4 linked regions of the Homo sapiens genome follow. The protein of the gene in region 1 purifies or fractionates together with the protein of each later gene. This does not show direct contact. Each region holds a gene or a part of one and is shown on either strand. Other genes may lie near its edges. The genes, in order: HEATR5B, PTPN3, MLF1 and RAB43.

Region 1 (7,967 bases):
ATTAAAACCATACTAAAGGGTAGCAACAACAACAGGAACAATAACAACAAAGCACAAATCCAAAGGGTAAAGAAAACAGGAGAAAGAATCAACACAGTATTTGGAAACCAACTGTTCCCAACAGGGAAAGCTGCAAAATGACCTAACTTACAACACAGGACCCCCTAAGAGATCACGGTTTTTTTAAGCCCTAGGTGCTTTTGGAGGTGGGAGTGAAGTTGTATGTACCTTGAGATAGAGGGAATGGTTGAGAGTCTAATAAGCAGAAAGAATCCTCTTCTTCATTATGGAAGCAGACTGAAAGTTTATTCTCTGGGAAGAGTGAAATATTGTATGTCCAGACTAGAAGAGTCCAGGCACAGTTGCGGTCTGGGAAAACTGCACTGAAAATGGGGAGATGCAGTGAAAGTTCACATACTGAACTTTAAAGTCCCCAGTCTTCTCCCACAACTCCAAGAATGTAGCCAGCTAGCTATATACTCTTCAGACACGACAGTAGAAAAGTATCTTCTGGGGAATGACTAGCCTACAGAAACCTAAAATACTAAGGTCAGGGACCAAACTAGCCTACAGTGAAGTCCAGTTTAAAAGACTGGCCCTGCTGAGAAAAGTTTTTACTACTCACTTTTAAATTTGATCAGGCAGCCAAAGATCATCAGACATTTGAGGGAAGTATCTACTTTTTTTTTTTTTTTTTTTTTTTTTTTTTTTTTTCAGATGGAGTTTCACTCTTGTCCCCCGGGCTGGAGTGCATTAGTGCGATCTCGGCTCCTTGCAACCTCTGCCTTTCCGGCTCAAGCGATTCTCCTGCCTCAGCCTCCCCAGTAGCTGGGATTACAGGCGCCCACGACCACGCCTGGCTAATTTTCGTACTTTTAGCAGTGTTTAGTAGAAACGGGGTTTCACCATGTTGGCCAGGCTAGTCTGGAACTCCTGACCTCAGGTGATCCACCCACCTCAGCTTCCCAACGTGCTGGGATTACAGGCGTGAACCACCATGCCGGGCCATATCTACTTTTAAAGACAGAATATAAAATACACAGACAATAAAAAGTAAGTTGAATCAATGTTGGGAACTGGCTCCAAAACTGGCCATAAATAAAATCTCTGCAGCACTGTGACATGTTCATGATGGCCATAACGAAACCCGAATGAGGGCAAGGAACACCTGGCCTGAAAACCGCTTAAAGGCGCTCTTAAACCACAAACAATACCATGAGCGATCTGCGCCTTAAGGGCATGTTCCTGCTGCACAGAACTAGCCAGACCCACCCCTTTGTTTCAGCATACCCCTTCGTTTCCCATAAGGGATACTTTTAGCTAATCGAATATCTGTAGAAACAATGTTAATGGCTGGCTTGCTGTTAATAGACACTTGAGTAAATCTCTGTTCCGGGGTCTCAGCTCTGAAGCCTGTGAGACCCCTGATTTCCCACTTTACACCTCTATATTTCTGTGTGTGTCTTTAATTCCTCTAGCGCCGCTAGGTTAGGGTCTCCCCAAACGAGCTGGTCTCGGCAAATCAAGGCTATGCAGGAAGAAAAAACAGATTAAAAAAAAAAAAGAGCCTATTATTGACTCCTCAAAGAGATAAGTGAAGACACTGGGATTGTTAGGCAGCATAGAGAGATCACTTGCAACGGGTGACGATGATAAATTTAAAGTGACACCAGTCATATAGCCATGTTTTTCTCCAGTTACAATGAGCTGCCCAGGTACAAACATAAAGAAGATAGGCAATGAGCTGGATTTAAACGAGGTTTGAGTTTTGCCACTAAATTTCCCATTCGTGTAATACTCTCAAGTTCCATAAGTGACCCATAAACCTTCCAAAACATAACATGTGTTTTCTTAAGAATCATGACCACATAATCTCTTCACGTTAATGCAACTGGGAAAAAAGAGCAATACCATACCTTGTTGGCAGCAACCAAGACTTTATCAAGAAATCGCAACCATTCAAAGATGAAAACTGGTCTTTTTGCTTCGGTGATTTGAGCCAAAGCTTCTTCATTTAGCAATAAACTGTGGGCTAACTCCATTACGGAAGTTTGAAATTCACACCTTAAATTTAACAGAGTAAAAAATACTTGTAAGTATTTTTTAATGTTAAAAGTCAAGCTTAATGGAATATACTCACTAAGAAAAGTAGGACTACTCATTTCATTTGGGGAAAAACTCAACTTCTTTGAGGCAAAACCTGAGAACATACTTTTAAATGACAAAAATACAAACAAAAACAGAAGAAAACTACTTGGTAAGGAAGAGTGACTCATGGAGTGAAAAGAAAATTAAAAGAAATTATTGCCAAAAAAGGCATTATTCCAGAAGAAATATGTCCAGCAACACATATGTCATTTACCCGTTCTATAAATGAAAAAACTGAAGCACTAAGATCAAACACCCCAGCCGGGCTTGACAACCATCCTCCTCTTTTTCTCGTCCAGGGTTCGGTACATAGCACCTTTACCCTCCCGCGCTGCACCTGGCCAGAGGGACTGAGGTCAAAACACCCAGCACAGACATCCCGAACTGCAGGTCTCCAAGACTCTTCCTACGCGGATGGGTGGGGCGGCCAGGCCCGGCGGCCGAAGCGTCAGTGACAACACCAGGCGGTCCGGAATGCACCCGAGAAGCCTCGCGCGCTCGGGGTCTGGCTTCACCTGGCTACTCCAAGAACCGCAAGCGGCGGACCCGGGGAAACACCAAGAGGCCGCCGCAAGCCTCCGTGGGGTTCCGCAGGCTGTCAATAGCACGAGGCGGCAGCTCGGAACTAAGCACGGAGCCAGAAAAGGGAAAATGTTCATTACGAACTCAAATGTCTTCCCCACCCGTCTGAAAATGTACGTCGGACAGGAGTCCGTGCGTGTCAACATGCATGCTTCGGCGACCTCACCTCGTAGTCTGGAAGGGAAGATCAGCTGAGCTCCGGGGGTAGAAGCAGCCACCAAGAGACCCGGATGCCCCACCTCCCGCACTCCTACCTGCAGGAAACAAGGGAAGAGCGCTTGCGCGGAGGGCTGGTCTTGCGCAAGCGCAGTCACCACGTCCTCCTATCCCCACCCGCCGCGAATTTCCAATAGAGTCTGCACTAGGAAACTGGTGGGAGCCGAGGTCCGGAAGTCCGACGCTGGTCGGTGGGCGCATGCGCAGCGCGCGCTCTACGGCGCTGAACCGGGGCGAGCAGAGAGCTGTCAGGTAAGAGAGCTGTCAGGTAAGGGTCTGGGGACAACCGGTAGAATGATAAAAGGCAGAGTGCGCTGGCCATGACTACCGTATCACACCGTCAGCCACTTTTCCATCCGTGGGTGGTTGCGTCTGTGGGACGCTTGCAGCCAGGAGGAACGCGTGAGGGAAGGGATCAGCGGTTCCTGAGCGTAGTATTGAGAGTGGGACGTTTCTTGTCACATTTATACTGTAGGTCCATTTCTCCACTTGTATATGTAATGGGACTCTCAATATGTCTGTTTCCCGACTACGCCCCCTAAAAAAACAAAAACAAACCTACTCCTACAGTCTTCCCACTCTCAAAAAACGTTAACTCCGTTCTTCCATGTATTCAGGCCAAAAACTTAGCGTTATCTTGACATCGTTCTTTACGTACTACCTACAACATCAGCAAATCCTGTAAGCTCTACCTTCAAGTGTACCCCAAATGCGACCACTTGCATTGCTATCACTCTGGTACGAGCCTCCATCATCTCTGCCAGGGTATCGCCTTGTGAAGTTTATGCTTATCTTTGATGGAAATGGATAATGCTAAAGTATATTTTACCAATAGAAAGAGAGCTTTAAAAGCAACCTGTAACCCCATTCAGATGTGCCTGGCACTTTAAAGTTAAGTAGGTCTCTTAAAAACAATGTAATCCTATTTGCAAGGCACTATGACCCGGATTCTTTGTGGTTTTGAAATAGTCATTTAGCCATACTGAACCTTAATTTCTCCAACAGGAAAAACTCTTCCTACCTTGTAGAGTTGTTAGTGGTGGTTAAATGTGATAAAAATGTGTGATATACTGGGTAAGTGTTAAACCATTATGTGTAAAAATGCTGTTATTACCAATGAAGAATCTGAGGTTTAGAGGAAGCGGGTGAATTACCATAAATGCTGTATATAATAGTGCACGTTTTTAACTTATAATAAAAATAGGTAAACTAAACTGTAATGTTTAAAGATGCACACGTGGATGACAAAACTATCGAGAAAATGAAGGAAATGATTGCCATAAAAAACAGAATAGTGACTATTCTTAGAACCAAAAGAGAGTTGCAACTGGATAGGGGACAAAGAGGGCTCCCAGGTGCCTGATAAGGTTCTACTTCCTGATAACTTTTGCTACATAACAAATTATCCCCAAATGTAGCAGCTTAAGATAACTGTAATCATTTGTTATCTCACAGTTTCTATGGGTCAGGAATTTGTTAGCAGCTTAGCTTAGTTTAGCATGGACTTTCTTAAGAAGTTGCAGTGAAGATGCCAGCCCAGGCTGAGTCATTTGAAGGCCTGACTGGAGCAAGAGAATCCATTTCCAAGGTAGCTCACTCCTGTGGCTCATGAGTTTGTGCTGGCTTTTAATAGGAGGACTCAGTTCCAATCGTGTGACCTTCTCCATAGAGCTTCTTGAGTATCCTTATTATGTGACCACTGACTTCCTTCAAGTGAGTCATCTAACTTCAAAGTTAGAATGACCTAAGAGCTGCAGTTATGACCAAAAAATCAACTCCATCATCTCCACAAAATCCTGTTGGTTACACAGGTTAATCCTGTTCACTGTGGAAGGAGACTACACTAAGGATGTAGAAAACCACACAGCAAGAATGACTGGGAGTCATTTTGGAGGGTACCACATGGTTACAAGAATGTTTGACTCACAGAAATGTATTAAGCTGTACATTTGTTTTATGTGTTTTCTGTACGTATTTAAAAAGTGTTTAAAAATGACTTGTTGACATAGGAAAAAGTTATAAAATTACAAATATTAAAGACCCTTTTTATCCTCATTGTTGCTAAACAATTATTAAGCATTTGTGTTTGGGATGCAGTGGTAGGTAGGGAGGATATAGGGGACTTGTCTTTGTGTTTAACACAAGATATACATTATCTAGTTGAGAAGATATACATTAAAAATATAAAAAACCAGGCCAGGTGTGGTGGCTCACGCCTGTAATCCCAGCACTTTGGGAGACCGAGTGAGGCAGGTGGATCACTTGAGGCCAGGAGTTTGAGACCAGCCTGGCCAACATGGCAAAACCCTGTCTCTATTAAAAACACAAAAATTAGCTGGGTGTGGTGGTGGATGCCTGTAATCCCAGCTACTCGGGAGGCTGAGGCATGAGAATTGCTTGAACTCGGCAGGTGTAGGTTGCAGTCAGCTGAGATCACACCACTGCACTCCAGCCTGGGTGATAGAACGAGATTCTGTCTCAAAAAACAAAAAAGAAAACCATTAAAAATTAGTATAGTAATCCTTTTTTCATCCAGTGTAATTGTCTAGACACTTGGTTGCAGTTGACAGAAACCCTACTTCAGCAAGCTTAAGTAATGCAGAAATGTATTAGTCTATGTAATGGGGTAGAATGCTAAGTCGCAGCTTCAAAGAATCCGCAGCCTTGGAAACTAGGCTCATTTTCTCTATCTGGCTTCATTCTTCAGACAAGATCCCTTCATGGGGCCAAGAAGATGGCCATCCACAGCCCAGCTTCACATTCTCCCAGTTCAGAAACACCCATAAAAGACCTTCTTTCCCCCACAACCCATATATTCATATAATGTAAGGAAAAAGATGGTTATTTCTCTGGCTGGGTCATCTCGTCCCCTGGTGCTGGACATAGAGTACTATAATTGACCATCTTTGTGCCCAAGGAAATATGGGATACTGACATTGCCACCCTCCACTAAAACCACATGAAGGGCAGAGGGTTGGATTCCCAAAGGAAAAGATGGTAGGCAGGAAAAAACAGTACATATGCACCACAACAAGTGAATACACTTTTGTCTTAAGCAACTGAACTAGCAACATTGACATTGCCTGTGAACCTGCTAGAAATGCAGAACCTCAGGTTCCAGCCCCAGAATCAGATTCTGCATTTTAAGAAGATCTCAGTGCAATTTGTATACACAATAAAGTTTGAGAAGTACTTTTGTAGAAAATTACTTTAACCCTTTAAGGGCCAATAATTACATGATTTTAACTATTTTGGATAGAAACTGTCCCTCAAAATATTTCCACATAAGTGAGTTGTTAACTATATCAACTTCCAAATGAGCAGCTTGGACATAAAGTGCTGTAGAGAAAGGCCTGGAGTGGTCAGGAGAGGTTTCTGAAGGGAGGGTAGCCTTGGCCTACAGGGAAGAAATGTTTGTACTCTGTTCAGAGGGCAGTGAGGAGCCATGGGGCTTGAATAATGAATCCTTAGGGACAGTTGTGTCAGATTATGAAGGACAACATCTCATGCTTTGCAAAAGTGACTGGTCCCCCACTGCCTACAGGGTCAGGTTTAATGAAGGATTTGAAACAGGCTAGTAACGTGACCTGACTTGTATTTAAAAACAAACAAGCAAATAAACAAAAAACCTCTGGATGGGGTGCAGAGAATGGACTGGAAGAGGAGACCAACTAAGAAGCTGATTAAGAAGCTGTTGTAATAGTTCAGGTGAGAAAAAAAAAGTGCCTGAACTAAAGCAGTGGTCACAACTGTAGAGAAAACGTCTGTGAGGAGTTTTATGGAGGAAGACTTGACAGCTTCATAAGAGGTCAGGAAGAAGGAGATAATGATGACATCAACATGGAAACACAGGGGATGTAGAAGGCTGGGGAAAGGGGAAAGAAATGAGTTGTTTAGATTGTTGAGTTTGAAATGTCCACAGATAAAGATGTCCAAAGGGCACTTGAATATATAGTAGAGCTCTAGAGACAGCTCATGGCTGCAGATACAGAAAGGTTTATTTCCATTCTGATAAACTAAAAAAAAAAGTAATTATTACTTTATTTGTAGATACTATAGCCATATGAAGTTGAACATGGCAGAAGAAGAGGACTATATGTCTGATTCCTTCATTAATGTCCAGTAAGTAAATGTGCACACCCAGTGCAATGATATGTATAAGATGTGTAGATTAAGAAATGACATTGATTTTATTTTATTTTATTTTATTTTTTTGAGACAGGGTCTCATTCTGTTAGCAAGGCTGGAGTGCAGTGGCACAATCTTAGCTCACTGCAGCCTCAAACTCTCCAGGCTCAGGAGATCCTCCCATCTTGGCCTCCCGAGTAGTTGGGACTGCAGGCCTGCACCATCATGCCCGGCTAACTCTTCTTTTTTATTATTTGGAGAGACAAGGTCTCACTGTGTTGCCAAGGCTGGTCTCCAACTCCTGGGCTCAGGCGATCCTCCGGCTTTGGCCTCCCAAAGTGCTAGGATTACAGGCATGAACCACCGTGCCCAGCCTGACAGTGATTTTAAATGTGCAGTGGGAAAGTCAGTCTTCTTGCTTTATGGAAATACCTCCTATGTCACCATAGAAAGATACTAGAATCTACTTCCTCCTTTTAATGCTAACCATTTTACTTTTGCCCTTGATCCTTTTTATTGCCTTCTTCCAAGGAAATTTACTCCTTTTCCTTTATTACATCATATTGTCTCTTCTAGCTGCTATACAACTTTGTTCTTTATTATTGCCAACATCCTAGAAACATAGTAAGTCTAAACTTACTATATCTGATTTCTTCAACTTCGTGCTTTCCTTATTTTCCTATGATCTGGCACCAGCCTTCATCATTTCTACTAAAACAGCCATTCTTAGAGGTCACTGATTATGTTCTAATATCATAATAACAAAGATGATCATAGAGGTAGTGCCGAAATATTAACTGTTGTCAGGTGAGTAAGTGACAGAGTTATGAGAAAACTTGGCCAGGCGTGGAAGCTCACGCCTGTAATCCCAGCACTTTGAGAGGCTGAGGCGG
Region 2 (7,845 bases), on another chromosome or scaffold:
TGGAGTAGTCATTTTCCCTCTCTTTACATCATTTTCTTTAGCTTGCCAACTTTTGAATTTGTTTCATTTTTCCAGATTATGAAAGAAACATACATAAGATTTAGAGAACTATAAAGACATACAAAAAATAGACACCCAAAGACTTGAAATTCTCCTAATTTGTAAAAGATAACTTCTGTAGCCTGCCTCTCTGCACATAAATGCAATAGTCAGACACACCACCAATAATATTTTGGTGCAGTTTTTCTAGTTTTTGTTCTATGTGTATGCATTAAATTGAAATACAGGAAGTTACCGATGTTCAACCATTTTGACCCATAAAATGGCAATTTCATATTTATTTATTTGAGACAGAGTCTTGCTGTTGTCCAGGTTGGAGTGCAGTGGCACAACTAGGACTCACTGCAGCCTCAACCGCCCTGACTCAAGTGATCCTCCCACCTCAGTCTCCCAAGTAGCTGGGACCACACATGGGTGCCACCACATCCAGCTAATTTTTTTCTTATTTGTAGAGACAGGGTCTCACTACATTGCCCAGACTGGTCTCAAACTCCTGTCCTCAAGCAATCCTCCCACCTCAGCCTCGCACAGTGCAGGGATTACAGGTGGGAGCCACTGCACCCTGCCTGGCAATTTATAGTTCAACCTACTGAATTCCCACATACCATACCATGTGTATTTTACATCATATTCTTTTCATGTCATTCTAACAGCACCACTTGCCCATGTATTTATGGATTCTCGGGCTCTTCATAAGCTTGCATTAACAGCACAAATAATTGATGAGCATTAGCATCTCAGCTCAGAGCACTGCTTTGTAAATCACTGGAGCAGTACAAGTAGGGCAGACTTCCCAAGTCTTGATGCGAATGACAATCCTCAGTGATTCTTCCAGGAAACTCTTCCTATAAATTCCCTTAACCAATTGCCTGCATACAGTGCCTGGCACCTGATTTTCTGCCCCAATGGCAGCTTCTGGGAATGCTGCTAATAACTATGTTTAGATGTTCATCTCTTGTTCCTCTTTTACGAATCTGGTCCATTACCTGTGATGTATATTCAGTTTGTAGCGTATCTTACTCTCCAATAAAATGATGCTCTTTTGTTTTCTTTGTTGTTATTGTTTTTCACGGTTTCTGGATCTTTCAGCCAGGTACAGTCTACTGGCACTAAGAGAGAGAGGTGACTATATTTTTGAGCTTCGCAGGAGGAGGGCTGCTCTTACGGTCCTGGCTTTCTCTCAGCAAACATCATCAGGACTATCAGCTCTCTGTCATTTCATCACAGAAAAGTCCCTGAGGAGTCCATGGACCAGGTGGTTCCATCATGTTGTGATCCTGCCTCCAAAGTGAATGCCCAGAGACGATAATCTATGTGGGTCCTCTCTGGACCAGTCGATCTGGGACTGAGTACAGCTCTATTCCCAATTGGGCTTTAATTTGCTCTACACTTGGCTGAGTTCAACAATAGCCTAAGAAGATTATGTGCCCATTCAAAAGCCCCATTTACGTAAGGTTTGGGAGCTTATGATATAAGATCAACTGTCATTGGTAATAATAACCTTATGTCACTCCAGATGCAACAGCTTAAAAGGATAGACTTTAACATTTTGGCCCCAAGAATAAAACAGTAACAGGAGACTAGAACATTTAAAGGTAATCTGTAGCCTACAAACACATCAAAGGGTAGAGAAAATAAGGCAAAAAACCCTACAAAATTAGATGACATATAGCTTCTCTTATCATCAATACATGGTAATCTACTACACAGAGAGGCAGTGTGTCCTAAAACCTAACACCCTGACTTTGAGATCAGATTGACTTGTGTTCAAATCCTCACCCCCTTAACAGCTGTGAACAGCCCCTAGATTGTTTTCTCTTCTGTAAAACTGAGCTAAAACACCCACTCTGTAGAGTGATGGTAAGGATTAAAGAGAGAATATATATAAAATATTCATCGTACTTGAGCTTGATAATAGCAGTTACTGTAACTGGATATACACAAAACAAGAATTTTTAATTTGATCTTTTAAATGCTTATTATTGCAAACATGTCATTGTGACATTAATAAACTTTTAAAAAACACCCAAACTTACTACTCCAAAAAAATGACTAGTTAATTTTCCCATATTTCCTTCCAGTCTTGGTGAATGTGTCAACACCATGTTTATACAATCTATTTGTGTTTTTAGCTTTTTTTTTTTTTTTTATTTGAGACAGAATCTCGCTCTGTCATACAGGCTGAAGTACAAATGGTGCCATCACAACTCACTGCAGCCTTGACCTTCCTGGCTCAAGAGATCCTCCCACCTCAGCCTCCCATGTAGCTGAGGCCACAGGTGCATGCCACCACACCTGGATAAGTTTTTTTTTGTAAAGATGGGGTCTTGCTATGTTGCCCAGGCTGGTCCTGAACTCTTGGGCTTAAGCTACCTTCTCACCTGGATCTCCCAAAGTGCTGGGATTACAGGCATGAGCCACCTCACCCGACCTGTTTTCTGCGGTTTTTTTTTTTTTCATTTAACATTGTACCGTGTTTTCCCTGTTGCAACATGGTCTTTTTAACTTAGTGTAAGATAGTTATTATTTCAACTAATATACCATAACCTAATTAATCATCCCTCTGTTATTGAGTACTTAGTTTGTTTCCAATTTGGGGAGTATTCTTTCATTTTGTTCCTGCTTCTGTTATGGTGATTTAAAACGCATGATTTTTAAAATATTTAGGTCTTTCCTTTAGGTGTAAGCATGTTCCTAGCTCAAAGTTGAGGGCATCGTTTAAGCTAACAGCTGTTAGCTGTGGGAAAAGAAAAGGTAATTTCAGTCTAGGGGTCAGCAGATTAAGACAACTTCGAAAATTCACACATCCTCCGTTGACCTCGGTTTCCTCATCTCAGCAGTTGGCAAACTGGCATGAGGATGACGGCTGATTTTGGTAGGCACTCAAGAAATGGATCTTTAAGGTGGTCTAAACACGTTCACGTTCCTTATTTCACTCAACTTCCACTCGGGTGCCCAGATCGAAGCGTAGGTATTCACAATGGTTGAAGCACAGAGAGGATAAGGCAGTGGGGAAAGGACAGAGAATGCCTCCTGCTGAGCCCGGGGGCGCTGGGTGGAGCTCTGCGGGGGGCGTCGCCTGCCCCTCCAGGGGGCTCCTCCTTCCGGGGGCTCCGGCCCCGCCCGGCTCCGAGCATGCCCAGTGCGCTCCCCGCCCGTCCGAGTGGTGCTGAGCGGGCGCCGCGGCTCCAGGTTTTGCTGGCGACTCGAGGCCGGGCCGGGCCGGGCGGGGCGCGGGCGGTCCTGCCCCTGGACTCCGGGCTCCGTCGGAAATCCCCCCGACGCGATGCACGGGCGGCACCCGCTGCAGCGGCGCTATCCCGGGACGTGCGACTCCGGGACAAGGACCGAAATGAGGTTCCAGGGGCTGCCGAGGCCTCAGTCTATCCCTGGAACGACTGCCCCCAGGACCTGGCACCCAGGCCCGACTGGAGGGTTCCAACCATCTCTGCATCCCTTCGTTCACATATTCAACAAATAATGTTTGAGCGCCTAGTGTGTGCCAGACAGTGTTGCAGGGGGGTCACTGCAGTAAAGACAAGCAGAGCTACAGCCCCAAAGCTGACATTTAGGAGGGAAATACAACATGAGAATTAAACAAATCGGAGGAAAAGCCAAAGTGACCAACCTCATCTGCTCCTCTGCCTCCTTGCCGTTCCCTAAGCGGTCCGGCGCTCTTTTGGGTCTTGGCACTGGCTGTTCCCTCGGCCAGGAATGCTCTTCCCTGCTTATCTGCGTGGCTGAAATACCACTATCACCTTCTCAGTGTCACCCAATCAGACCGTCCATCAGCTCAAGGGCCCTATCCGACCGCTTCACTGAAAATTCACTGCTTACCTCCAGCCCCAAATCTCCTGACCCTGCTCTTTTTCCTCTTAGAACTTATCACTTTCTAATATAATGCATAGTTTGCTAATTTGCTGTTTATCTGTTACCTGTCCCTCTTTCCCCAAACTCCACTGGGGGACAGAATTTTTGTCTATTTGTTCCCCACGCGAGAAAAACCAGAATAGGTGCTCAATAAATATTTGCTGAAAATGGATAAATCACTGTTAAATGCTATGAAGAAAACAGAGTACACGGAGTGGTCAGGAGCAGAGGGCTAATCGAGGAAGGTGGTCAGGAAAGGCCTCTCTGAGGAGGGGACCTATGTACAATGAGAAGGCGCCGGCCACGTGAAAAGCTGGGCAAGAACGTCCCACAGAGGGAAAGGCGGGCGCCAATGTCCTGAGGTTAGTGAAGTTCGAGTGTTTGATGGACAGAAAGGCGCTCTAGGATCCGCAGGAAGGCAGGTGTGAGATGAGACGGAGGTGGGAAGCAGGAGCACAGATCAGGTAGGGGTCCCACGAGCCTTGGGGAGGTTTAACCAGGGAAGCTTACTAGTGCCAAGGGACGAGCACTGGACTGGAAGTCAGCGGGACCTCAGCTCAACCGCGCACCCGTCGTGCAAGACTCCTCATTTCAAAGTTTCTTTGGGCGCCGACTTCTTGCCTTCCCTAGGCATGAAATCACTGAGGGCCTGGCACACAGTAGGTGCCCAGTCATGGCTGTGGAACGAATGGCTGCATGCATGCGCGAGGGAACTCAGGACCTGCCCGGAGCTCGGCGGAGAGCCCCGGTGCCCCTAGGAGATGCGTCGGGGCGCGCCAGCCCGGGGCGGGGGCGGGAGAACACCGCAGGCCAGCCCGGACGCCCGCCCCCCGCCCGGCGCGCGGGCCCGTCGCGGCCAGCCCGGCCGGCGGGAACCGCCCGCGGGCGGCACTGGGCATGCTCAGACGGCGGCCAGGTCGCGCCGCGAGCGAGCTTCCGCGCCGCCCGCACGCGCGACCTACCTGGGCGCTCCGCGCCCCCGGATGCTGCAGGTACGGGCCCGTGCGACCCCAGCGGGCCGGGGGCAGGGTGCGGGGCTGCCGGGGGCCGGGGTCGCGCTCGGCGCCACCCCGCCCCCACCCGTCCCTGGGGCGCGCGGCGGACGCGCGGGCGGGCTGGCGGGTGCGGCTGCACCGGGATCCCCGCACCACGTCGGGGCGGGGAGGGGGCGCCCCGCTGCGCTCACCTGGCGGGGCCGGGGCGGGAGGGCGCGGGCGGGGCGCCGGGTGGGGCTCGGCCGGGGCGGGCTGGCGGCCGGGACGCGGCGCCGGAGCGTGGGCGTGCGCTCCAGCCGGGCAGGGGCGGGCGCAACCCGCGGAGCCCGTGCGTCCGGCACCTCCGGAGGACCCCGTGCCGCCGCGACCCCGGCTCGGGGCTCCGAGGGGGCACACAGCCCGCGGGGAGCTAGCCGAGAGCGGCTGCCAGCGCTCGGCTCCCAGGGCGAATCCGCCTCTCGGCTTTCAAAGATGGCATTTCCTGGGCCTGGCACGAAACTCCAGAGCCAATAAATCCTCCCCGTTCCGCGGACGATATGGAATGATTTATCAGGTACCTGCGGTGAGACAGCTGCAGATGGGGGAGTGTATGTGAGAGTGCCCAGCCCCCCCGAAATTCCCATTTTCAGCTACCTAAACTTACTGAGAAGTTGCGGTTGCCTTAAAAATTCATGGGAAGTTGAGACAACTTGACACCTGGGTTTTCCAAGCTGGTGGAAAGAGCTTGTGACTTGGAAACTGGAGACCTCCGTTCAAGTTGGGCTCCCCCTTGGCCAGCTGGTGACCTTGGCAAGTTGTTTAACCTCTCTGGTCCTCAGTTTCCTCCCTTGCAATCAGCTGGTAATAATGCCCACCTCGCTGGGTTGTTGAGTGGATTAAGTGGGATAAATTATGTGGAGGTGTTTGGCACCGTGCCCGGCACAAAGCTAGCAAGCAGTTGGCGTGATGTGAATTTAATTCGTTTAGAGACCCTCGTGGCTCTCATTTCAGGAGGAAATTAGAATTAGGAAACCATCTTCAGGGCCTAGTGGTGGAGTGACAGACCCTGTCTCTGTGCCCAGGAGAACTTCTGCCGAAGTCAAGGCCTTCGGAAAAACAATTTAGCCGAATTGTAATCAGAGAGCATCTCCTTTAAAAGCAGTTTTATACATTCAGAAACTCCAGAAGTTGGCAGTTGGCTTCACTTACAAAAGAGCTGTTTTGCAAGATGATCCATCTTGCAAATGTTTAAGCAGATGATGGGAGAAAGTAAAGCCTGCTTAGGAAGATTTCTGTTTTAAAAAGCTCCCAAATCCAACTTTAAGCGATTATTTAGATCAGGGTTTCTCAGCCTTGCACTATTGACATTTAGGGTTTGATAATTCTTTGTGTCCTGGGCATTGTAGGGTTTAGAAGCATCCCTGGTCTGTAGATTCCAGTAGCAATTCCTGTTCCCCAGTTGTTCCAATCAAAAATGCCTCCAGTATTGTCAGATGTCCCCTAGGGAGCAAAATGCCACCCCAGCACCCCTTTAGAACCACCAATTTAATTCTTGCTTTCTGTCATTAGCCCGAGTTGTTTGAGAATTTCATCTTGTGCTTTTGTAATAACTAACCTTTGCATAGCCTTATAGAACTTACAGAGTACATTCACCTGTATCGTCTTATTTAATCTTTACAACTCCCTTGTGAGACTGGTGTCACTCCCATTTTACAGATGAGGACATGGAGGCTCTGAGCAGCCAATTACACAGTATGTGGTAGAGCTGGGGTGTAACCCAAGTCTCCTGGTTCCAAGGGCAGGTCTTTTTCTTCTGCATCAAGCTGCCTGTCCCTTTGTTGTATGGAGGCTTTGATATGGATGACTTTCCGGATGATTAAATCAAGATGTGAAGTATATTGGAAGTTGGAAACTTTTCTGAGATTGACTAGTTGAAAATTAACAACAGTAAGCTATTATCTGACAGAGTAGGCCATTCTAGTTAAATATTCTAGTTTATAGCGAGCTCCCATAAATCCCACATGCAGTTAATGGAATACCAATTTGCAGAGAATTAGAGTAGAATAGAACGTGCCTAATACTCTGTATTGATCCTGCGTTTTCTCTGGTGATTTGCCATCTCCTAAAAAGGACTCATATATGCAAATTAGACATTAGCTGGGGAATATAAAAGGTCAAGTTACTGAAGGCATTTCAGAGTAGCTGAGGCATTTATTGAACTTCTGTATGGCAGATGTAGTGCTGAGTGGGGATGTGGGGTGCACCCCAGAGAATCCAGGTTGCCTGCATCCACTTCCGTGCAGGAAAGGGCAGGCCCTGGTCAGGCCAGACAGGTGGTGGGCCCTCAGACAGCTTGGAGCAGGAGAAAAAGCCCAAGTTACCATGGAAGCAGATTCAGGATCCCTTACCATATCATCAGTCATGTCTCTGACCCCTCGATTCATCTTTTATCATACAGAAGATACTCTGGTAGTTTTAAGCATTCTCATTCAAGTCTCAGAGACCTGGTTAGGGAGGCAAGGTCAGAGACAAATCTTATCCCTGGAAAAAGCTGGGGTTCCGAGGTGGTAATTGGCTTCAGAGAATTGAGAGCAACGCTTTGTTGGCTGTGAACTGGAAGGTTTCACACACAGTGGGGTTTGTTGCTGCCAAACCCCACCCCATTCCCCACCTTGCAGATAAGGAAACTGAGCTGGCAAAGGTAGAGTGGGGCCAGGAGCAAGAGGGACCAATTTTGACCTTCTGAACTACAGGTCCAGGCACACAAGAGACATTTTCTAGGACAGGCATAACCTACCAGAAGGGCTCAGCTTTGGGGATGGGAGGGAGTGAGAAGACATGGCACCCTGCCTTTCCCCAACCCTCCGGGTTTGTGGTGGTTGAGAAAAGACCAGCAATTTGTGGTCCCTACATCTTTTCCCAGGAGAGCTCACCTTCCAGC
Region 3 (7,911 bases), on another chromosome or scaffold:
CATTTCCCACTGTTCATTATCTTTTTATTAATGTTATTTTGCTTTAAATTAGTACTAACATATTTAAGTCAATCATTTATTTAAACAACAACATTGGCTAGGTGCAGTGGCGCATGCCTGTAATCCCAGCATTTTGGGAGGCCGAGGGAGGCAGATCACTTAAGCTCAAGAGTTTGAGACCAGTCTGGGTAACACGGCGAAACCTCCTCTCTACAAAAAAAATTAGCAGGGTGTGGTGGCTCCCTCCTGTGGACCCAGCTACTTGTGAAGCTGAGGCAGGAGGATCGCTTGAGCCTGGGAGGCAGAGGCTGCAGTGAGCCGAGAGCAACCCACTGCACTCTAGCCTGGGCAACACAGTGAGACCCTGTCTCAAACAAACAAACACAGACGCACAACACACCCCCCACAGATATTGTTTGAAAAATATGTGCAATAAACTCTTATTTTAAGACCTTTTTAAAAAATGCTCTCCAAATTGCAAACCTAGAAAATTTAAGGGATCAAAATAAACTAGACTTGAAATCAAAATTCAAACTGGCAAAAAACACTTAGGCTAAAAAGTATTACAAATTTCCCCTCTTAGGGATACAACTAGACTATGTCAATGTGTTTGTAACAATGGCCAAAGTTAGAATTAAGGAAAAAAAATCCCACAACTCAAAAATAAATAATAGTGAAACCAATTTCTGGATGCCTTCTTTCTAGGGCATCACATTACTTCACTGGGAACCTTCAAAGGCAACGAATGGCACTTGCTTACCTGAGGTGTTAAATACACACCCCCCCCCCCCCGCCGCCCTCCTCCCGCCCCCCTCCCCCCGCCCCGCCCCATCAGCTTCCCTGTCCTATTTCTAGTTTTGACAGAAAGCGGAGTCCCTTCACAAACAAGGTTAGCTCTGTAACAAAGCGAGCAAAGAAAACAGCGCAATTGGCATGGCAACTTCCAACAACTTCGAAGAGAAAGCACAACTCTCCAACTTTGTCGTGCTCTCATTGACACATTCCCCACTCACATGGAAAATGCTGTTTTAAAAACTTCCCCTTTTCAATGAACTGTCATGCTATAAAATATTACCTGTTCCTATTTGGAATTTAAAGAGGAGCTATAAAATATTCCCTGCTCCCATTTGCAATTATGTGAACATAATTCTCACCATAAGTTTCACCGAGATGGTAGTTATGTCACCTGCAAAGCCCTTGAAGCTGCAAAGGCCAACTCTGCACACAGGAAGCCATGACGGGCACCCAAAGTCCGGCCAAATGGAAAGCAGCAGGCACCCCGGGAGTGTGAGGAAGGGCCTTCTTTCCATCTCATGCAGCCAAATCCTCCTCCCCCTACCTGGGGCCCTCAACTCTCTACCTCACGTCCTCAACCATCCTCCTGCGACCTCACGCCCCCAAACCCTCCTCCCCCCACTGCACGCCATCAACTCTCCTCTGTCCACCTCACACCCTCAACCCTCCTACCCCCACACCTCATGCCCCTAAACCCTCTTCCCCACACCTCATGCCCCCAAACCCTCCTCCCTCCACCTCACGCCCCAACCCTCCCTCGTCCCACTACCTCTCACCCTCAAACCTCTTCCCCCTACCTCACGCCCTCAACCCTCCTCCCACATCATGCTCTCAAGCCCTTCCCACCAACTCACGCCCTCAACCCTTCTCCCCAACCCTCCTCCCACACCTCATGCCCCCAAATCCTCCTCAGCCCCTAAATCCTCCTCCATCCACCTCACACCCTCAACCCTCTTACCGCCACCTCACGCTCCCAAACCATCCCCACCAACTCATGCCCTCAATCCTCCCCTGCACTTCATACTCCCAAACCCTCCCCACCAACTCACGCCCTCAACCCTCGTCCCTGCACTTCAAGCTCTTAACTCTCCCCTGCACCTCATGCTCCCAAACCGTCCCCCCACCTCACGCCCTCAACCCTCCTCCCCCCACCTCGCGGTCCAAAACCCTCCTTCCCCTCACCTCACACCCTCAACCCTCCCCCACACCTCATGCTCCCAAATCCTCCTCCCACCTCACGTCCTCAACCCTCCTCCTACACCTCACACCTTCAACTCTCCCCCACACCTCATGCTCCCAAACCCTCCCCCCACCTCACGCCCTCAACCCTCCTCCAAACGCCTCACACCCCCAAATCCTCCTTCGTCCATCTCACACCCTCAACCCTCCCCCCTCCACCTTACTCCCCCAAACCCTCCTCCTCCCACCCCACGCTCCCAAACCCTCCCCCCACCTCACAGCCTCAACCCTCCTCCCCCCACCTCACGCTTTCAAACCCTTCCCCCACCTCACGCCCTCAACCCTTCCCCTCACCTCACGCCCTCAACCCTTCCCCTCACCTCACGCCCTCAACCCTTCCCCTCACCTCACACCCTCAACCCTTCCCCTCACCTCACGCCCTCAACCCTCCTCCCTCCCACCTCATGCTCCCAAACCCTTCCCTCACCTCACGCCCTCAACCTCTTCTCCCCACCTCATGCCCTCAATTCTCCTCCCCCCACCTCCCGGCCTCAACTCTTCTCCCCCCACTCCCAGCCTTAACTCTCCTCCCCACACCTCACGCCCCCAAACTTCCCTCCGCCTACCTCACGCGTCCAAACCCTCCTCTCTCCACCTCATGCGCCCAAATCCGTCTCTTCCCTGTCTCACACACCCCTAAATCCTCCTCTCTCTTCCCTCCCAGGCCTCCAAATCCTCGTCTCCTTCAAACCGCCTCCAGAGTTACTCCGAATTCTCTCTCGCCCTCTAAAACTCGCTCTTTTCCCTTAAAATAGCTCCCCTCGATACCTTAATTCCCGCGCGACCCCGGACTCCTGGCTCCCGTAACTCACGAGAAGAAGGGGTCATCCTCAAAACTGCTGTTCAGCATCCTGAACATTCTGGCTCTGTCTTGGGTGGCGGCAGCCGCGGACAGATTGGAAAAACGATGTTAACTCGCCGCGGCCGCGACAAGAGCTAGCCTCCAGTACGGACGACGCCTCACTCGCCGCGGCGCAGGCGGTGCCCGCCGGGATAGGAGGTGCGTGACACCGAGCTGCTTTCCCATTGGACATTGCTCTGTGACGTCACCAGGACGAGGCGGGGAGCAATGCGCCGCTGCCCTGGCAACCGCAATCAACACAGTGGAGGCGAGAAGTCTGGCCTTGCGCCGGCCGGGGAGCTTTTCGCCAAGGCTCCTGTGGGATGGGATAGCTTGTTCTCTGGGCTGCAGGAACCAAAACATTAGACCACCCTTTCTGTGACCTTGGGCATGCCGCCCTCGGTTCCGAGCCGCAAGTCTTTCTTTCGGGGAAAATGAAAAGGGGTCAAGATTTGGACCAGATGACACCCAATGTCCCATTCAACGGTCGCATTCTGTCATCCACAGGAATTAGTCCTGTATCCGAAACATTCTCTGGTAGTCAAAAGCTGTGAGCAAATAATAAGAAAAAATGTGCAAAACGTTTTTTAGTACAGTTAGCAAATAGTGTACTCAGTTGTTGAAGGAAATGGGATGAAGCCTATCAGATTTCAACAAACTTATTTACCTCTTGAGAAAGCTGCTCTCTTTTCGGTTGTCCTTCTGTGTCTCTCTTTCAAAGATCAAGTCTCACTGCGATGCTGATATGTTTTTAACACTTCTCCAGCATTTCTTAACCTAACAGCAGGTTTCAGGCACAGGCCTGCAGCAAGCAGCCATATCCAACTAAAATTCCACTACTATATGTTTTTATTTGCATTACATTTATCAGGGAGCTTTCTATTTATGGCAAGGAAACTGATTTTAAATTTAAATCAGTGATATACATCAAGAGCTAGATTTTGCATTTTTAAGTGAAAAAGTAAGCTATCAAATAGAACAGGTGGAATTTGGATATGGTGGGGCGGAGGGGTAGGCAGAGCAGGGGAGAGGAACATCGTGATAGTGGTACTCAAATTACTAAGTTTTAGAAAACACTATCACGGGGCCTTTCAGGAGCCTGGAGACAGATGGAGGGGAAGACAGAAGAGAGATTAAGGAGAAGAATGGTAAGAGTATAAGAAAAGAGAAAATACATCTTGCATGTCCACCCTTAATTCAGTGAGCTCCCCAGCTTCTCTACGTGGCTGTCTTGCAGAGATAAAGGGGCGTCCATAGCTCATCAGGGCCCCCTGGGATCAGGCCAGAGGGGTGGCACTTTGCCAGCATGAAGAAGTGTGCAAGCCCTGATTTGGAGGTGACAGGAGTAGTCAGGGGTTATTTTGAGAGCTGGAAATTTAATCGTTTGGATCTTTTACTCCCCATCCCCCTTTTTTAGCCAAGTTCTCTGGCAGCTTCCTTCCCCTGAGACTGGTGGCATGGGGTAGGGCAGACTTCACAGCCCAAGATGAGATGGCACAGCCCATCCAGGAAAGAGGATATTTTCTTTTCCTCTGGACTCAGAATAAAGCTCAGAGAACATATACACAAAATTTCGAAAATTTCTAAATAAATTTCAAGGCAAACAAAATTGTTTTATAAGACCTTAAATTGTTTTTCTCTTTAAAATAGTATAAGCACAAGATGTGAAGGAGGCCACACTTAAAAAAAAACTTGAAATGGAGTAAGTTATGTGATAAAAGATGGTGTTAAAATAGTTCTGGATTAAGGCCAAGTAAATTTGTAATGTTACCCTCTAGTTTCTGTGGGAACTTTTTTAGAATCACATTGTTATAAAAGCTTTAGTCCAGGCACAGGTTAGTCAGGGAATTAGCTGAACCTTGTGAAAGCAGTTTGGATCTAATGACAAATGCAAAAAAAAAAAAAAAGGAGGGCAGAGCAGAGTTGGCACTGAAGAGACCTTGACATCATTTTCAGAACTGATGGGTAAGAGGTGGAAATGAAAGAAAGCGTGGGTCAGGAGAGAATGAATACTCCAGCATGGGAGGAATAGAGATGCAGAACAGGACTGAGAGGAGAGGGTCCTGGACTTGGCTGTAAATATAATCATAATAGCTAATATTTATTGAATGTGTGCCAGGCACTGTTGTAGGCACTCCATATGCATTACCTCATTGAATCCTCATTAGCAGTTTTATGGAGTAGAGATGGCTTTTATCCCCATGTATAGATGATGCATTCAAGACACAGAGAAGCTGAATAAATTGCCAAGGTTCACACAGCTAGTAATTGAACTGAGCTGGGTACCTGGAGCTTTCCTCTGTGAGTGCTGGTTATATGGTATGTGAGTGATGAGTCATACTTAAAGATGCAGGATGAAAGCGGGTAATCATTTTTCAAAATCATGCTGACAAGCTAAATGGACCCAAACTAAAAAGTACAAAATTCAGTGGGAATATATTCACATCACATAAATTCAATTCTACAAATATTTATTGAGTGACTACCCAGTGTTGGGGACTGATCTACGACCTTAGGCATCATTGAACAAAACGGACAAAAATCTCTGCCTTCCCGGAGTTTATGTTCTTGTAAGGACAGACTCAAAATAAACAAAATAGAAAATAGTATATTGTAAGGTGATAAGTGTTAGGGAGAAAAGCTGATCAGGGTAAGGAGTATGGAGAGGTGCAATTATAAATAGCAAGTTTTGTGTACGCCTCACTAAGGGGAATTTGAGCAAAGACCCACAGGAAGGAAGTGGATGTCTAGTGGAAAAGCATTCCAGGGCAGTGCTAAAGTAGCATTTGCCTGGTGTATATAATGTACAGTCCTACTCATATGCCTTAAAACTCACCTTCTGAGTGAGGAATGAGATGAGCCAAGTAAACTGAAAATTGCCTAATAGGGTAATAGCTCTCATTTACACTTCATATATTCCAAGGATTGCACTAAGTGCTTCACATATGTTTTCTCGTTTAACCTTTACAGCAACCATGTCTAATATTATGTTTATCCCTAAATTGCATTAAAAAAAGCTGGGACCCAGATAAATTTGATAATTGAATTTTGATAATTGATTTGAAAGTTGATAATTTGATTAAATTTTGATGATTGAAATTTGATGTCACTCAATTCAAACCCAGATTTGTCTTACCCCAAAGCCTGTATCCTCACCACCATCCGTACTTTGCCTCCCTATTTTAAAAATTAACTATTTATGGAGCAAATATTTGCAGTAAACACTTTTACATCTATAATCTGTAACTACACTGTTGCTTAGGTTTCATTTGGAAGGACACTGACTAAGGAAAAACAGAGAAAAGGATGAAACCCAAGCCAACTCTGCAACTCTATTAAAAACACCAAGACTTCAATATGTAAGTGATTTCGTGTTTCTTTCATTAATTTATCAAATACTTATTAAGGACTAGTAATATCCCAGACATTATTCTAGACACTGAGGTTACAAAACTCCCTGGCCTTTCGGAACTTACATCCTAGTGGACAACTCTTTCCCCAGCTAATTTTACAAATACTGTTACAGCACCTCAGAATTTTCATAATGTTTCTGAAGACATTATCTCAAGTGCCCAAAAGAAAATAAACAGGCTCTTGAGTGCTGAACTTTTAACTTAATTATAGCTTTCCAGAGCCGTGAATATTAGGCCATTACAAACACCTTTACCACAATTAAGCTCAATGTGTCTAGGGTTTCGTTGTCCTAATCCCTTTGTCTTAAACAGTGCACAGAGGTCCTCTGAGAATGAGATGCCATAGCAAACTCACAAGGGGCTATGGGACAAATTTTGAGAGAAACTTGGCATGTGTTAGACATTGTTCAATGTACTAGTTTAGGGCAGTTCACATATTTCAATATTAGATTGCACTACATTGTTTTAGATGATGTCATATCATTGGAAAGGTAGGTTTCTGAAAGTTACTATGATGAAAATGAAGTACCTGTCAATGTGGAACAGGAAAGATTGGTGGCAACATTCAGTCTGTTTCTAAAGTTTGAAAAATTGTGCTGTGCTAGGCGGGCACCCATCTGTTAGTATGATTATTTAAGAATTATACAAAAATATGTTTCTTTCAATTTATGTGCATTATTTTTTAAAGGTACTGAGTTTTTAGGTCAGAAATACGCTGTTTGTATCTAAATTATACAATAACGGACCTATTCAGTATTTCTTTAAACCTAGGGGGCACAATGAAAAAATTACTGAGGAACTAAGGGCTCATGAACTAAGATAGTTTGGGGACCTCTGTCTAATCCCACAATCTTTCTTCAAATTAAAAAGAAATGTAAAATATCATGCATTCCTTTTCTAAAAAATATGTTTCATTTTATTTTTCATGTTTATCTTCTTTACAGTCAGCTGACTTACCAGTCCTCTAACAGTTTTGCTTTATATCTTTTTGAAAGATGGGAAAATGGTGCATACCGATTAAGTGACCTGTAAGAGCATAGATCCCAAGGTCTTCAAACTCCCAGTAGGGCTGCCTCTAGTCCATAATGGCATCTTTGCTCAAATTAGAAAAAGTGCCTCCCTCTCATGATACTTCCATTAATGAGAAATTTGTCTTAATAAATAGACAAGGCTGTAATGTATATGATTTGACTGGTGCTCGCTTAGGTGTTGTATACATGTCCATGGCAGCGCTGTTCCTAATCTTGAATTCTTTCCGCTACATAGGAGTTAATTGAGTGCCAAGCTTCATCCCCAAACTCCCAAACTCATGTGCAAGAAATGTAATTTTATTTTCCTGCAATCAACCTTAATTTATCTTCTGGGCTTACATTCCACTGGGAGTCACTCCCATTTCCTCTTCCACGGAGACAATGCCAAGGTGTAGTTGGTTGCTAGCCATGCTGCATTCCTGAAGTCATCTTTATTGCCCTCACTGGGTAGGGCCAAGGGTACTAAACATCTCACTATGTGTGGCACGGTCTGGCACAATGAATCGTCCTTCCCTAAATACCAATAGCAGTCCTCTCCTTTTAAGAAATACACTCTCTAGAGCAAATATTTCCTCCAGCGAAGTAAAAATTT
Region 4 (7,017 bases), on another chromosome or scaffold:
ACATTCCAAAAACGACAGCCTCATATATTTTCTCCAGTCCTGTGGTGTGTGTGGAGGGAGGGCTACTCTGCCACCAGCGATGCTGCCATGGCTGGAAGCTGCTCCAGGAGCCCTCTGACCGGCTCCAAGTTGGCTGATGTCTAGGCTGCTGCTCAGGTATTATCCTGGGATTTATCTCTCTTTCCATCATCCTGGCATCTCCCTTTGCCTCCCTTTTCAGTTGAACTCTCTGTTTTCTGGATCCCACATTTTCTTATTTTTTGTTGATTTCTTTAGGTAGAGGAACTTTCAGTCACTCCCTGAGGAAGGGTAGCAGGAAGGTGAATTTTTCGAGGACTGTATGTCTGGGAGTGCCTTTATTAAACCCTCACACTTGACTACTGGTTGGTTGGGTAGAGAATTCTAGGTTGGAAATAATTTTTCTCCTCATTTTAAGGCATTGTTTTGTTGGCTGTCTAATGCCACATGGGTCTTTTGTGTTCTTTCTTCTTGCCTGTTGTTCTGGAACTTCTGCCCATGGATGCAGTGTGGTCTGCTCTGCTCCATTGTGTGTGTGCCTGGTGGGCCCCTCAGTCAATTCTGGATACTTTTCTTGAAATACTTGATTTCCTCTCCTTGATTGTATTGTTCTCTTTTTCTGAAACTCTGATTATCCTGCTCTCCTAGGCTGCTTCTTAATTTTCTTTTCTTTTCTTTTCTTTTTTTTTGAGACAGTCTCACTCACTCTGTCGTCCAGGCTGGAGTGCAGTGGCGTGATCTCGGCTCACTGGAACCTCTGCCTCCCAGGTTCAAGCGATTCTCCTGCCTCAGCCTTCCCAGTAGCTGGGATTACAGGCGTGCACCACCACACCTGGTTAATTTTTGTATTTTTAGTAGAGATGGGGTTTCACCATGTTGGCCAGCCTGGTCTCGAACTCTTGATCTCAGGTGATCCTTCTGCCTTGGCCTCCCAAAGTACTGGAATTACAGGCTTGAGCCACCGCACCTGGCTTTCAATTTTATTTTCTCTCTTTTCCATTTCTTTGTATTTTTTCTCTACTTTGGAGGGATTTCTTCAACTTTATCTTCCAACCCTGATGTTGCATTTTTCATGTATGTTAATCATATTTTTAATTGAGCTCTTTTTTCTTTCTGAATGCGCCTCACCAAAAAAGATACTATTCTTTCCTTGTTCCATGAATCTTTCCCTATTTCTGAAACATTGACGATTGTTTGAGTACTTTGCCTCTGTGTTGTTTCTTCTGTGTTGTGTTTTTGCTGTTGTTTGGCCGGTGTCTTTCGTGTTATGTGTGGAGACGAGTTATCTCCACACCAGAGGTTATCTGGATCCCAGGCTTGTGTGGTACACACATAAACCTTGCACTTCACCCCATGCTGCCATGCATGAGCTGCAAGACGCATGAACTATGGAACATAGGCCTGGTTTTCTTAGAGCCACTCACTGAGGAGTAAATGGGACAACTCAGGAAAGAGGAGTCTTATTTGGCACATTGTGGCCCAGAGCTTTCACTCTCAGACTTCTGTGTTGGGGCTGGGGCAATGGTGGTCACCTCCACAGTGCCAGGGGCAGAGGCCCTGCCTTCAGGAACTGTCTGGGCCTCTGTGGCTTTTCCCCACCCCAGACAGACCTTGAGAGAAAGACCTTTCTCACATACCTTGAGAACTAGGTAAAGAGACACCCCGAGTGTTTGTGCCTGCAAAGGGGGCTGATGGACCTGCAGCTTGGCACACGCCACAAGCTGGGTGTCAGTCTTCAGAGAGCCATGAGAACCTGTGATTGGTGGGGCAGAGAAGGCACACCCGATCCCCAAGGTGTTTGGTCACCAAGATCCCTGGCATATGCCCCTTGGCTGGTGATCTCTGCCCAGAGTGGGCAGCCTCCTGGCCCCGCACAGACCTCTGCCCCTACCTGGCCTGGTATCCATCCTGCCAGACTCTGCTTCTAAAAGACACTAGGGAAGCTCCTCCCACCCATGGGCACCTCTTCTCCACAGCCCACATCTGGTGGGAGATGGGGCAGAGTAGGTGTTAAATGAAGACATGGGTGGCCAAAGCTCCTTGCTTTGGCCAAGCTGGGTCAGCTGGTGGAAACTGCCTTGTACTTAAAGGCCCCATGGGAGGACTCTGCCCATTGCCACCACCAGTCACCCTTCCCACAGTCCTCATCACCAAGCTGTAGAGTCCTGAGGGAACCCTAATGCTGGAGGAGCCTCACACACAGCTGGGTACGTGATGCTCTTGTAGGGGAGGGTACCTGGCCGTGCCTACTGCTGGCCGTGCAGTGCACCTGGAGCCAGCTTTCCAGCCGCCGGCCGCTTGAGCACTGGTGGTTCTGTTTTCGCAGCAGTGGGCCCAGTCCTGAGGGGAGAGGGGCACACGGAGGGGCACGCGGAGGACCTGGGTCAGCTCAGAGTGTACCCCTTCCTCCATCTTTCCCTGGGGACCCTAGAGGGCCAGGACAGGGGCTGCTCACCTTCCCTTTGCTTCCCCATTTTTCCAACAAGGTTGAGCCATTGAGTTGCTTTCTAAGGACTCAGAAGGCCTCCTAGCCCAGTGGAACCACAGCTCTGGGTGTGGGTCTGTGGGGTCACTCTGCCTGTCCCCATGTTCAGCCTGTGCCACTGGGTTCACTGAGGAACCTTATTTCTTTAGCTGCAGATCTGGGACACGGCCGGCCAGGAGCGGTTCCGCACCATCACCCAGAGCTACTACCGCAGTGCCAATGGGGCCATCCTTGCCTACGACATCACCAAGAGGAGCTCCTTCCTGTCGGTGCCTCACTGGATTGAGGATGTGAGGAAGTATGCGGGCTCCAACATTGTGCAGCTGCTGATCGGTGAGTTGGGGATTCCTCGGGACCACAAATCCCATCACTCTGCCTGTCCATGCCTCCCTCTGCTTTTTAAACACAGTGTAACCCTGAGTTCAGAGGGAGTCCCAGCCAGAGTTTGAGCCATGGTTTTGCAAATCCTGATCCTGCTAATCACTTAGAAAGTTACATTCAAGGCCGGGCACGGTGGCTCACGCCTGTAGTCCCAGCACTTTGGGAGGCTGAGGCGGGCGGATCACAAGGTCAGGAGATCGAGATCATCCTGGCTAACACAGTGAAACCTCGTCTCTACTAAAAAAATAAAAAAAAATTAGCCGGTTGTGGTGGCAGGCGCCTGTAGTCCCAGCTGCTGGGGAGGCTGAGGCAGGAGAATGGCATGAACCTGGGAGGCGGAGCTTGCAGTGAGCTGAGATCACGCCACTGCACTCCAACCTGGGTGACAGAGCAAGATTCGTCTCAAAAAAAAAAAAAAAAAAAAAAAAAAAAGAAAGTTATATTCAAAATTGGAATTAGAGGAAAGAAGAAAGAGAGCTGAAGTTTGCTCTGCTGTTCTTCACATGTGTCAAGATTTAGCTCTTGTACCCCGGCTTCTCCTCATTTGACAGGGGCTGGGGCTAGGCTCAGAAAAGTGCAGTGATTTATCCGGGTCCACATGGCCTGTGAGCATACACATGTAGGCTTTGAGTTTGCTTCTGCTGACCTCAAGTCTGTGGCTTTCTCTGTTGTGCCGCACACAGAGCAGGGACACTTGATGGCTTCCGTGCCTCAGAATCCCACAGAAGTCTTCTTCAAGTGCAGCTGCAGGGCCTCAACCTCCAGAGCATCTGATCCAGGCGGGCTGGGTGGGGCCCATGAATGTGCGTTTCTAACAAATTCCCAAGTGACACCCACCTTGCTGGTCCAAGGATCCCACTTTGAGAACTGCTGCTGTGGAAGGATGCTGTTTACCTTTGTTTTCCTTCTATATAACCTTCCCAGACCTGGACTGGAGAAGCTCTTTAGCTCTTATGTTATCCCTGGGGTCCTCACCCCAACAGGTTGATTCTTTTTTTTGAGACAGAGTCTTACTCAGTCACCCAGGCTGGAGTGCCGTGGCGTGATCTTGGTTCTGCAAGATCTGCAAAACCACTGCAACCTCTGTCTCCCTGGTTCAAGCGATTCTCCTGCTTCAGCCTCCCGAGTAGCTGGGCCAACAGGTTGATTCTTCTGACTCAAATGTACAGACAGGGCCTGGACCTGACTCCAGCCAGGAAGAGGGTGGTGCCTGGTTCCATGTGGCCTGCCTTCCACAGCCTGTTCAGACTAGGACATGGAGTGCTTGGCATGAACAGAGCTTTCCTCACGTAGCCTAACCATTTCCCCACCTTTTCTTGCTGGGGGTGGGGGACGGAGTCTCGCTCTGTCGCCAGGCTGGAGTGCAGTGGCACGATCTTGGCTTACTGCAACCTCCGCCTCCCGGGTTCAAGCAATTCTCCTGCCTCAGCCTCCTGAGTAGCTGGGACTACAGGCACGCACCACCACACCTGGCTAACTTTTGTATTTTTAGTAGAGACTGGGTTTCACCATGTTGGCCAGGATGGTCTCGATCTCCTGACCTCGTGATCCACCCGTCTCGACCTCTAAAAGTGCTGGGATTACAGGTGTGAGCCACCACACCCAGCCACCAATTCCCATTTATCCAGGACATTTCTGAAAAACATTCCAGCCTGGCATGGTGGCTCACACCTGTAATCCTAACACTGAGAGGCTGAGGTGGGTGGATTGCCTGAGTTCAGGAGTTCAAGACCAGCCTGGGCAACATGGTGAAACCCCATCTCTACTAAAAATACAAAAATTAGCCAGGCATGGTGGCACACACCTGTAATCCCAGCTACTGCGGAGGCCAAGGTAGGAGAATCGCTTGAACCTGGGAGGCGGAGATTGTAGTGAGCCGAGATCGTGCCACTGTCCTCCAGCCTATGCGACAGAGTAAGACTCTGTCTTCCAAAAAATAATTAATTAAAAAACATTCTATTATAGAACTTTTTTTTTTTTTTGAGACAGAGTCTCACCCTGTCGCCCAGACTGGAGTGCAGTGGCGCGATCTCGGCTCATGGCAAGCTCTGCCTCCTGGGTTCACACCATTCTCCTGCCTCAGCCTCCCGAGTAGCTGGGACCACAGGCGCCCGCCACCATGCCTGGCTAATTTTTTGTATTTTTAGTAGAGACGGGGTTTCACCATGTTAGCCAGGATGGTCTCGATTTCCTGACCTCGTGATCCACCCGCCTCAGCCTCCCAAAGTGCTGGGATTACAGGCGTGAGCCACCGCGCCCGGCCTATAGAACATTTTATACAGCTATGAAAATAGTATTTTATCTATTTATTTATGCATACTTATATACATACATATATTTTTAGAGATGCAGTCCTGCTATGTTGCCCAGGCTGATCTTGAACTCCTGGCCTCAAGCAATCCTCCTGCCTCAACCTCCAAGTAGTTGGAATTACAGGTGTGAGCCACTATATCTGGCTTAGAATAGTATAATAATGAGCCCCCAGGTACCCATTACCCTGCTTCAGCAATTAGCAACTGAAGTCCAACCTCCTCTCATCTGTACCATGTCACCTCCCCTCCCTCGGATTATTGAGACAAATTCACATCAAACCATTTCACCTGGCAGTATTCCAGCATGAACCTACAAAATATTTAAACACTTAAAAACAGCAATATTATTTTCTCATCTAAAAATACTGACATTTCCTTAATAATATAAAATAGCCAGTCTGTATTCAGATTTATAATTGCCCATAAAATTCATATGTGTTTTATTTTTTCCAGTTTGTTGAGATCAGGATCCAAATAAGTTTCACACTTTGAAACTGGTTGCTACATCAATTAAGGTTACCAAGGAAATTTTAGATCTTTACAGACTTTTTTTTTTTTTTTTTTTTTATGACGGAGTTTCGCTCTTGTTGCCCAGGCTGGAGTACAGTGGCACAATCTCGGCTCACTGCAACCTCCGCTTGCCACTCCTGCCTCAGGCACCCGAGTAGCTGGGATTACAGGCCCCCGCCACCACGCCTAGCTAATTTTTTGTATTTTTTTTAAGTAGAGACGGGGTTTCATCATGTTGGCCAGGCTGGTCTTGAACTTCCAACCTCAGGTGATCCACCCACCTCGGCCTTCCCAAATGCTGGGATTACAAGCATGAGCCACTGCGCTTGGCCCAGACTCTTTTTTTTTTTGTCTTCCTTATAACCACATTACAAAAGTCAACCATGTAGAGACTTTTAAAAAATTATTCTAGAAATTGGGTCAAGGAGCAATTTAACAGATTGTTTGGAATGTAATGAAGTCATCTCATACCATCTAGGAGGATCTGGGTAAATTGAGACGGGGTCTCACTGTGTTGCCCAGGCTGGTCTTGAATTCCTGGGCTCAAGCAGTCTTCCTGCCTTAGCTTCCCAAAGTGTTGGGATTACAGGCGTGAGCCACTGCACCCGGCCTAAAAAAGGTTTTTTAAAGAAAGACAGATGACCATGCCAGGGGTGTCCATTTATAGTGGTGGAAGGGAGTGGCATGGGGCTGTCAGCGTGACCCTCCCAGGTGGGACTGGGCTTGCCCAGCCCCCATGGCCTCATGCTGCCCCGGCTTTCCTCCGCAGGGAACAAGTCAGACCTCAGCGAGCTTCGGGAGGTCTCCTTGGCTGAGGCACAGAGCCTGGCTGAGCACTATGACATCCTGTGTGCCATTGAGACGTCTGCCAAGGACTCGAGCAACGTGGAGGAGGCCTTCCTGAGGGTGGCCACGGAGCTCATCATGCGGCACGGGGGCCCCTTGTTCAGCGAGAAGAGCCCCGACCACATCCAGCTGAACAGCAAGGACATCGGAGAAGGCTGGGGCTGCGGGTGCTGACCAGGGGCCGGGCCGGCAGACTGGGGGTTCCCCACCTCCTTGCTCTCCCCAGCCTGCCAAGCCCAGCCCTCCAGAGCCAGCCCTCCTGGGTACCGGCAACTACAGCAGCCGGGTGAAGCTCTGGAGCTCTGCATCCTGTGGCCTGGCTGCGGGATGGAGGCTCTCCTTGAGGAAGGGGAAGCAGGATACCCTGGCGGGCCACCCTGCCAGCCAGCAGCTGGCCCTCCACCATCTTCACATTCCAAGACTGGCCTGAACCCGCCGGTGTGGGCCACAGTAGGAGGGGCCAGC

The links.
Region 2: the proteins of HEATR5B (region 1) and PTPN3 purify together in Homo sapiens (affinity purification with mass spectrometry; 2 studies listed by BioGRID and IntAct, with this or other methods). This does not show direct contact.
Region 3: the proteins of HEATR5B (region 1) and MLF1 purify together in Homo sapiens (affinity purification with mass spectrometry; 3 studies listed by BioGRID and IntAct, with this or other methods). This does not show direct contact.
Region 4: the proteins of HEATR5B (region 1) and RAB43 purify together in Homo sapiens (affinity purification with mass spectrometry; 2 studies listed by BioGRID and IntAct, with this or other methods). This does not show direct contact.

What each region holds. Positions count from the first base shown.
Region 1 is NC_000002.12:37,081,373-37,089,339, forward strand, and holds the start of HEATR5B (HEAT repeat-containing protein 5B), read right to left. Parts: upstream 3,001-7,967; 5' UTR 2,897-3,000; intron 2,065-2,896; 5' UTR 2,043-2,064; coding exon 1,917-2,042; intron 384-1,916; exon of another isoform or gene 229-383; intron 1-228. Other genes in the region: GPATCH11 (G patch domain-containing protein 11), read left to right, coding at 7,010-7,068.
Region 2 is NC_000009.12:109,495,296-109,503,140, reverse strand, and holds the start of PTPN3 (tyrosine-protein phosphatase non-receptor type 3), read left to right. Parts: upstream 1-4,833; 5' UTR 4,834-4,922; intron 4,923-5,204; exon of another isoform or gene 5,205-5,478; intron 5,479-7,845.
Region 3 is NC_000003.12:158,566,283-158,574,193, reverse strand, and holds the start of MLF1 (myeloid leukemia factor 1), read right to left. Parts: upstream 3,001-7,911; 5' UTR 2,894-3,000; coding exon 2,847-2,893; coding exon of another isoform or gene 2,803-2,846; exon of another isoform or gene 2,601-2,802; intron 1,219-2,600; coding exon of another isoform or gene 1,155-1,218; intron 1-1,154. UniProt on the Homo sapiens protein: Involved in lineage commitment of primary hemopoietic progenitors by restricting erythroid formation and enhancing myeloid formation.
Region 4 is NC_000003.12:129,090,805-129,097,821, reverse strand, and holds part of RAB43 (ras-related protein Rab-43), read left to right. Parts: intron 1-2,652; coding exon 2,653-2,836; intron 2,837-5,228; coding exon of another isoform or gene 5,229-5,308; exon of another isoform or gene 5,309-5,322; intron 5,323-6,475; coding exon 6,476-6,726; 3' UTR 6,727-7,017. Other genes in the region: ISY1-RAB43 protein, read left to right, coding at 2,653-2,797. UniProt on the Homo sapiens protein: The small GTPases Rab are key regulators of intracellular membrane trafficking, from the formation of transport vesicles to their fusion with membranes.